Linked DNA regions of Homo sapiens: region 2 is linked to region 1. Evidence: fine-mapped expression QTL. A gene starts in region 1. The other region holds a variant in brackets. All regions are shown on one strand. Distances are between the middles of the regions.

Region 1 (4,257 bases):
AAACAATACATTTAAAGTAATTTGTTACACCCCACTAACTTTCCACTTGAATAAATTCATAAAGAAAAAAAAAACCCTTTTATCAGCCTTCACATTCTCAAAATGTGAGCAGTAAAATTATAAAAACTCATGGAGGCAGGGGTTACTCACTGGATTTGTACTAAAACTCATTCACAGCTGGCTTCACTTGTAAGTGATCCACTATCTGTCTTTCTGTCAGTTTCCATACTCACATTACTTCAGCTCTTCTATCAATGACAACAGCCACCTAATCTCTGACTTTGGATCCATCCTAAGCATGTCTACCAATCTAATCTTTCTCATGTTTTATTTGATTACATCATTCCTGCTCCATGTTTTCCCCCAAAGGCTCCCTACTGCCTAATAGTAGACATTAATGATCGTTTTCATGGTGAAGCGTTTACCTTCCCTCTCATTATTATCACATTTAATCCTATAGCCTATAAAGCAGGTATAGTTTTCATCCTGTTTTACAGATGCTGTATATTGAAGCTCAAAAAGGCAAGGTATGTAACTTGAAAATGGAGATCTGAACTTAGGTTGTCTAACTCCAGAGCTGGAGCACTCAACTCTTATCCCAGTTCCTAGCTGGCATGAGCAGCTCTATGAGATATGACTCAGCCTGCTTCTTCACCTCGCCAACTGGTCCTTCATCTTCAGGATGGTAAATATGTTTTATTTCATATGCCCATCCCAATCACTTTGCTGTGGTTACCTAAACTACCAAGAGGTTTGAAATCAAGAGGAGGCTTAGCATGAAGGAGCGCTATGGAGTTACAGCAGTATCTGTCAGAAGAACATACCATGGGTTAGCTATCTCTGCCTTTCCCATATACTGGGCTTTGACCACATATATTTCCCTCTCCCCTTGATGACACATTCCCACCTGTAATGATTATCTCCATTTGTCATCTTGAGCCCCCTTCAAGTGTCATCTCTAATACTAATTATGTTGTGAGGTCTTTTCCTAACCCCTCACTTCCTAATCCTCTAGTTCTCCCAACCTTAGAGTCTACTTTTTTCTCTTGTTTGTCTCATTTTGCTCTGCTCCCCGTTAAAACCTCCCCTGGGCTAGTGCCCTACTCATAAATCTCCACCTTCAGACATACTAAGCAAAATATCTTGAACTTAACAGACGTTTGATAAATATCTGATGAATTAAATAGGATCACATACCACAGACTCTAAGGACATTATGTCAAGACTACAGACATTTTATATGTAAAGCCATTTCAAAAACAAAAAATTCAAGTTCTGCTTTAAAAAACAACATGACATAATATATAGAAGAATGCTACTCACTAGGTAACCGTGTTCATTTCAAATGCTTTATAGCAAAGCAGGCTTCCCTAACATCACACAAAACTTTTAAAGAAAGAAGACTTGCTTCTTAGCAAACATCACTCTCAGCTGTCCACAGCTTCACTCCACTGAGACATACAGAGACACATCTCCCTTATTTATCAAAATAAGCCATTTAAAAAGTATTCTTACCATGGTCAACATGAGCCAAAACACAAATATTCCTGATGTTGGCAGTGTTTTTCTGGAGTTGAATCATCTTATCCAAACTGTTGAGCACCATGATTACTTATTTCCTGTGACTAAAAATTAAATATGTATTACAAATGGCCCAGAGGCTAAAGGTCGGGGCAAAAGAAAAAAATAATAATAAACGCTGGGAGGTGGCAAGCTTCTCAAACCCCTTAAACCAAGAACCCAGTGAATGTTTATTGATGAGATAGACCACCAAGGCCTAAGTCCAGTTCGAGCACTAAAGTCAGTATCCTACCACGATTACACTTAAGGAGTTTGCTCATCCTTCCGGATCCAAAGGCTGCGATGAATCACGCAGCTCGAGGGGACTGGGTGCACAGTGACACCAGTAACCCTGCCGGTGGAGGAGTACTCCAGTAAACATCTCCAGGCCAATGACCACGTACAGGAAGGGTTGCATCCAGGAGGGAGAGAAAATGCTGAAGAAGATGCTCCCTTTCTCTCTTCAGTCTTCCCCCAAGTCCCTCATTCTGACATTCTCGCTCGTCCTCGCGCGAGGTCAAATACCCAGCTTTATTCCTGCCCATGGAGCCCGAACAAAGTTTTGGGTCACGTGCTTATTATCCAAGCAGGTGCACTGCCGGTCTTTCATTCCTTTCTAAATAAAAAGGAAAAACCTCTACACTACATGCCCTTCATTTCTGCAGGGTCCCAGATTCGTTCTCTTTGAGGATCCTGGGTCCACACAGACAGGCGACCGCCCCGGCCCCAGACGGGAAGCGGCACTCCGGGGACCGAAGCTCCCAGCCCGCGCTCGGCCCCAGCCCCTGTTCCCGCCTCAGAGCCGCAGCGAGCGGGTTCCTCCGGCACCGCCCAAAGGCTGGCCTAGGAGGTTCCAGCCCCCAGCGCCAGCCCACACTCACCGGCTGCAGCAGCCCCACCAGCCCCGCTCCTTCTCTCGGGTCGCACCCACACCGAGAGCTTCCGAAAGTCCGAGAGCTCTGCGGGTCCGACACGCCCGCGCGCCAGGGGGCGGGGCCGGCTGTCGCTCGACCTTTCACCCGCACGTCTCTGACGCCGCCGGAAGCCGGCGCCGAGTCTGTCACCGGGCATCCCTCTGTTGCCTTGACTACGGCGGGCGCTGTGGGAGTGGAGAAGCTGCAAGTGCTGAGGCGCGGTGGAGGAAAGCATGGGAGCCAAGAGTATGAGGAGCTGGTGTCTGTGTCAGATTTGTAGCTGCGGGTAAGAAACGGCTGGTGTAGCGGCGGGCCCGGGCTTGGGAGCCGACCTAGGGCCTAGGTGCACGGAGCCGGCTCCTCGGGAACCCTGAGAGTGGCCGTCCCCCGGAGATGAAGGGACGAGGGCGCAGCGACATCCCCACTTATCCCGCTCCGCGAATACTCGCTCCTCACCCGCCTGCTACCCGGGGGTAAAACGTTTGTTCGTAGCCCCTGAGACTCCCAATCAAGGATGCAAAGTAAAATGCCACCCGGGCCAGGTAAGTAATATATGTGAAGCCGCGACGGGATATAACGCTGGTGAGTAGTGGGATGTGATCCGACTGGGAGAGTGCATTTCCACCCCATAATCCCCCACCACGAAGATGAGAAAGAACAGTGCTCAAGGCCCTGAGTCTGCAACCCATATCACATTTTCTTTCATCTGTAGCTTTCTGTCCTCCCAGCCAGACCATATTCCCATTCCCGTCCAGGCAGCAGTTCTTTGGGATCCGCCTGACTGAAAAGTCAGTAAGTAGTCCCTACCCTGAAATCTAGAATCCAACTGTGAGTCCTGCCTAACAACCTTCCATCACCTGTAAACACAGTCCTCTCCTTCCTCAGCTTCACTATTGACCCAGGGATTAGATCATTATTTGCTAAGTAAATATGAACGTTGTCAATCCCTGGTGTATTTGTAATCCCATTCAAAGAAAACACCTACATGTTGATGGAAAGCAGTTTTTTTAATAGTCTCATAATAAACACAGTTCATAATTATATATAGATTAAAATATCAACAAATTAACTTTGGGTGTATGAATCCTCAGACTGGTGTGCAGGAGAAAATTTTTACTTTTCTCCTAATTTATATTCAACGCAAGTTCCTTTCTCATTCAACTGTAAGGAAATTCAGTCTTCATTATGTTGAGGGCCACCATTGGAATGGCGTGATTTTACTTCTTGTTTGTTTGTTTTGGGCTGTGGTTGTTAGTTTTGTCTTTTTAAGGGTTTATTTTTATTTTTTGACAATGCAATAAATACACAAGAAGTATCATAAAAATCTAAGCAAAAATATCTATAATATTGTAAAACGCCTTCATAATTCTATCTTCCACAGATAACAAATGTTCTTTAAGACTTGTTTTACATATGCATTGATTTTTTTTTTTTTTTTTTTTTGAGACAGAGTCTGGCTCTCTTGCCAGGCTGGAGTGCAGTGGCGCAATCTCGGCTCACTGCAATCTCCGCCTCCCGGGTTCAAGCAATTCTCCTGCCTCAGCCTCTCTGAGTAGCTGGGATTACAGGCTCGTGCGACCACACCCAGCTAATTTTTGTATTTTTAGTAGAGACGGGGTTTCACCATGTTGGCCTCCATCTCCTGACCTCATGATCTGCCTGCCTCGGCTTCCCAAAGTGCTGGGATTACAGGCGTGAGCCACTGCGCCTGGCCTGCATTGATTTTTTTTTTTTTTTAACAAAAAAAGAGAATATTCTGAGCATACTATTCTACAATCCGGTT
Region 2 (4,257 bases), 71 kb after region 1:
TGTAGTCTGGGCTCAGGAGCCACTGAAAATCCTGATGCCACAGGATCCCATGCTGGAGGCTTGGCTGTGCTGGGAGTCAGTCAAGAGAAGTCCCAGCTACACAACATCCTGCAGGCAGCTTTCTGACCTCCAGTGAGTAGAGAGAGTGGCCTTGGCCCCTGATTTGCTGTGTGAACCTGGGTAAGCTCTTTCCCCTCTGGGTCTCAGTCTTCCCATAGTGAGACCAGGGATGTCCCTGAAGCTGTGTGAAAACTGGGCCTGGGTGAGTCCCTGTCCCCTCCCCAGCCCTAGCCTGTCCATTCCCTGGCCAGAGGACTGCCTAGAGTGAGCAATGGAACCACAGGAAGGGCCTCCCTTCCAGGGTCCTGCTAATCCCAGTGGTGGGGGGTTTCCTGGCCAGCTGGGTCCTGGTGGAAGGGCCTGAGCTAGAGGTGGTTCTGGATATCCCAACCCCCCACCTCCAACACACACACACACACACTCACACACTTCCTGCAGCCCCAGCTGCTCTCAGCAGTGCTGAGGGCAGGAAATGGGGTGGCCCTGGAGTGTCACCTGGGCTCCCCTCACCAGCTGTGTGGCCTTGGGCTCCATTTCCCTCTCAGGGCCTTCATGTGCTGAATAAAGGGGCTGCCAAGCCCCATCCTTGCATAAGTGAGGTCTGGGCATGAAGGGCACAGCACTGCGTGGGGATCCAGGTGGTGCTCAGGGAAGGCGGCTTTTTCCCCTCCCGCAAAGCCACTGTCATCCCCCATTGCAAGGTCAGGGAGAGGGCCTGGGGCTGACCCTGCCAGTCTAAGGAATCCAGGAGCTGTGGCCTGAAGAGCTGCGGCCCCTGTGCTATTGGCTGTCTGCCCCCTGACCCTAGGACAGAGTCCTCAGCCACGGCCCTCAAACTGGCATTCGGGGCCCCCTGCAGTCTCCCCAGTCTGCCTTCTCCCCTTATCCAATGCGCCTTCTCTACCTGCGCTGGCTCCTGGGCAGCCCTCATTTGGGCTCAGAGTGGCCCCTGCCATGCCTCGCTGCCATGCCTTGCTACCCTGCCTCTGGCAGGGGTGGCCTTCCTGCCACAAACCCCATTACCTCAAGGCCAAGTGGCAGTGCCCCCACCCTGTCCTGCCTGCCCTCAGCACGCACCCAGCCAGCATCTCAGAGCACTCCTGTGTGCTGCCTGAGCTGGGTGCTGGCATCACATCTCTCGCCTTCATGGCTAGAGCTGGCCACAGGGAGTGGGGTGGTTATGATCCCAGGGGATGAGGACCAGATGGAGCAGAGAACAGGAACTGAGGCCCCTGGGGGCCTAGAACCAAGGACAGATGGCCCAGGAGGCTCTGGGCTTGTAAGGTCTCCCAGGGGCGGGTATGAGTGGGCTGCAGGGAGTGGGCTATGGGGGCTGGTTAGGTGGCTGAACTAGAAGCTGTCCTAAGTGAGGAGTTTTCTGCCACCAGTGAACAGTGGAGGGGCAGCTGGGAAGGTGTCTTGGACTTTGAGACCTGGAATTCCCAGGATGTTTTGCTGGTCTGTGGGACAGTTGGCGGGACGGGGGAAAGCCAGGAAACTCCAGAGTGTGCGGTCGCTGCAGTGACACAGCATGGCCACATCCATTTGCTGTGGAGGTGGGGTTGACAGAGGAGGGAACC[A/G]AGGCCCAAGAGGTGAAGCAGCTTGTCTGAGGTCACCCCGGGCGACCAGGATGCAGGCCTGCAGATGTGCACTTTGGAGCTCTGCCTGGAGCTGGGGTGGAGGAGCCTGCCTGCTGCCTCGTGCCCTCTGCCGGGCCTGAGGGATGTCCCTGGCACAGGGCTGGCTGCTGTCCTCCTGCTCTTCCTCCCCAGGGAGGTCTGCTGGAGTAAGCAGGGCCCAGGCGGCAGGTGGGGGCTGTCAGCAGTGGCAGTGGCATCAGGAGCAAGGCCAGGAGGCTGGAAACAAGCCACTTCCCAAAATAGCTCTGATAACCACGGGGCAGGAGGGCCCAGCCAAGCCTCAGCCCTGACAACCACAGCCTGCAGCCGGCCTCCCTCCCCACTGGGCCTGGGCTTAGTCCCTGGTTTCCGCTGACAGCCTGTAGGGCCCACTCTCTCTAGGCTTCGTGGCCCACCTGGGAAATGGGAGGCTGGCCTGGGAGATGCGACCTGTGACTCAGAACCCGAGGCTGAGTACAGCCCCTGTGGCTGGAGGTGGTCACGGAGGCCTGGCAGGACAGATGCACTGGGGCAGGGGGCGGTGGCGGGAGTCGGGGGCAGAGGCCACTGCAGGCTGGCAGGAGGCCCCGGGACCGCAGTTCTGTGCCAGGATCTGTCGGGGAACACCAGGGGTGAGCAAGGATGGAGATGGGGTGGCAAGGCGTCGCCCTGGGCAGGCTCTTTAACAGGCATGTGAGGGGGTCAGGGTGCGGTCTCAGGACCTTTCCTCCAGAAACCTCAGCCCAGCAGCGCCCGTTCTCGAGTCCTGGGGTCGGCCGTGAGTAGGTGGGACAGAGACACCAACAGTTGGAGACCTGCAAGTCCAGTTTGGGAGCCGCTCCAGAAACTGGGGCTCTCTGCTTGGTGGGGAGCTGCTGGAGCCTCCTTGAGGTGGTTGGGGTGGGGAGCCAGGTTCTGGGTACCCCAAACCACTGGTTCTGATGCCTCTCTGCCCCCCCACTCCAGGCTGTGAGCGGGACCGCCTGTCCTTCGGGTTCTGTGAGACACTGCGCCTACTGGGCCGCTGCCAGCTGCCCACCGTCTGCACCCAGTGCTGCCGCTCGTGCTCTCCGCCCAGCCACGGCTCCCCCTCCCGAGGCCATCAGCGGGTCACCCGCCACTGACGGTGCCAGGATGCACAGACCGACCGACAGACCTCAGTGCCCACCACGGGCTGTGGCGGAGCTCCCGCCCCCTACGCCCTAATGGTGCTAACCCCCTCTCACTACCCAGCGGCAGGCTGGGGAGCTCCTCCCCCTCGAAAAAGGTATTTTTTTATTCTAACAGTTTGTGTAACATTTATTATGATTTTACATAAATGAGCATCTACCATACTAAAGCACAGTGTGACTTCATCTTGGATTTGGGGAATCTTAAAAGTGAGAAACTCTTCCCCCGACCCCTCTGCCCAAAACTCCACCGCTGCAGCACCTCGGCAGGCGCGGCTTTTCACCTGCTCCTCTGGGGCAGATCTGCAGGGGGCAGCGTAGCAAACGAGTCCCTGAGAGCATGGCATCTGGTGAGGCACGGAAGGCCTCGGAAGCCAGAGGGCTGCTGCCCAGGGAGGCCTGTCTGCAGAGGGTGGGGTTCTGGGGGCAGGAAGGTCTTCTGGGCAGGGGCACAGCTTGGCCCTTACTTGCTGCCTGCCTTCAGCTCAGGCTCCCAGCCTTCCCTGGGGCCCCACTCTGTGGTCCTCAGAGACCTGTTCCACAGGGATTGAGCCCACCTTGTCACTTGCAGGGACTGCCCCCTGGAGTGGTGGGGACTGGGGCCCCCATGGGCACCTCCCTGGCTCTGTCTGTTCTATCTGTTGACTCTTCTGCAAAAAGCGGGCAGAGAGGGGAAGAGCAGGCTGGCCAATTTTGCCCTACTGTGTCCCCACGTGTCCCTTCATCTCTGTGCCCAGAGATAGGGCTGGGCTAATTGCCACTGCCTTGGGTTGGCCCCTTTCCCACCACCAGCCCAAGCAACAGGTTCCTACCATGCTGATCTATGGTCCAGCACCTGGCACCTGCCTACCCACAGCCCCTTCCCCTCCCATAAAATCTAGTCCCATGGAGCCAGACAGTAGTGCCCACAGCAGGGAACAGATGGGCATGAAGGTGCTTTGAAGAGGGTCCTGGCCTGACCAGGGGCGGGAGGCTGGAGAAGGGGCGGACACTGTCCTCCCAGGCCCAGGCCCAGCCCTGGATCCGACCCTGGCCTCTGGCTGTGAGCCTTAGACTCAGCCGTTGACAATTTCCTCCTCAGCCCTCCCCCTGGAAGGTGTTACGCCCCTTCTACAGGTGGGGGACACTAAGGTTCAGAGAGGCCACCCTGCAGCCTACAGGGGTCACCTCTCACATTCTACTCTCCAGCGTATGACAACCCTGGACGAAAGGCAAATGTAGCCCTGGAGCCTGCATGTGGCAGCCGCGGCCACTCAGGGCTGGGTGTATGCTGGGGATGGAGAGGACACCACTGAAAATCACTCCTGGCTGGGCGCGGTGGCTCACACCTGTAATCCCAGCACTTTGGGAGGCTGAGGTGGGCGGATCACCTAAGGTCAGGAGTTTGAAACCAGCCTGGCCAATGTGGT

Alleles and levels. Alleles are on the strand shown, and positions count from the first base shown. SD is a standard deviation of normalised expression in the study named.
With allele A in place of G in region 2, the expression in microglia of the gene that starts at base 2,646 in region 1 is lower (large effect, 1.4 SD a copy in Young 2019).

The links. PIP is the estimated chance that this variant, and not a neighbour inherited with it, causes the effect. A credible set is the group of variants that fine-mapping cannot tell apart.
Region 2: its variant is the best candidate, but not a certain one, in a credible set for the expression of SAXO2 in microglia (Young 2019, PIP 0.65).

Annotation. Positions count from the first base shown.
Region 1 is chr15:82,260,173-82,264,429 of GRCh38, forward strand. It overlaps SAXO2 (stabilizer of axonemal microtubules 2), which reads left to right and starts at 2,646. Exons shown (of 4, transcript NM_001348699.2): 1 at 2,646-2,760. The coding sequence starts at 2,708. EFL1 (elongation factor like GTPase 1) reads right to left here and starts at 2,562. Exons shown (of 20, transcript NM_024580.6): 1 at 2,442-2,562; 2 at 1,516-1,625. The coding sequence starts at 1,606. RefSeq lists a silencer at 492-678 and enhancers at 2,687-2,776, 2,797-2,866.
Region 2 is chr15:82,331,599-82,335,855 of GRCh38, forward strand. It overlaps the pseudogene ADAMTS7P1. Among named protein-coding and RNA genes, the nearest start is that of GOLGA6L10, 16 kb to the right of the region's middle. The variant A/G (reference allele first, on the strand shown) is at 1,641.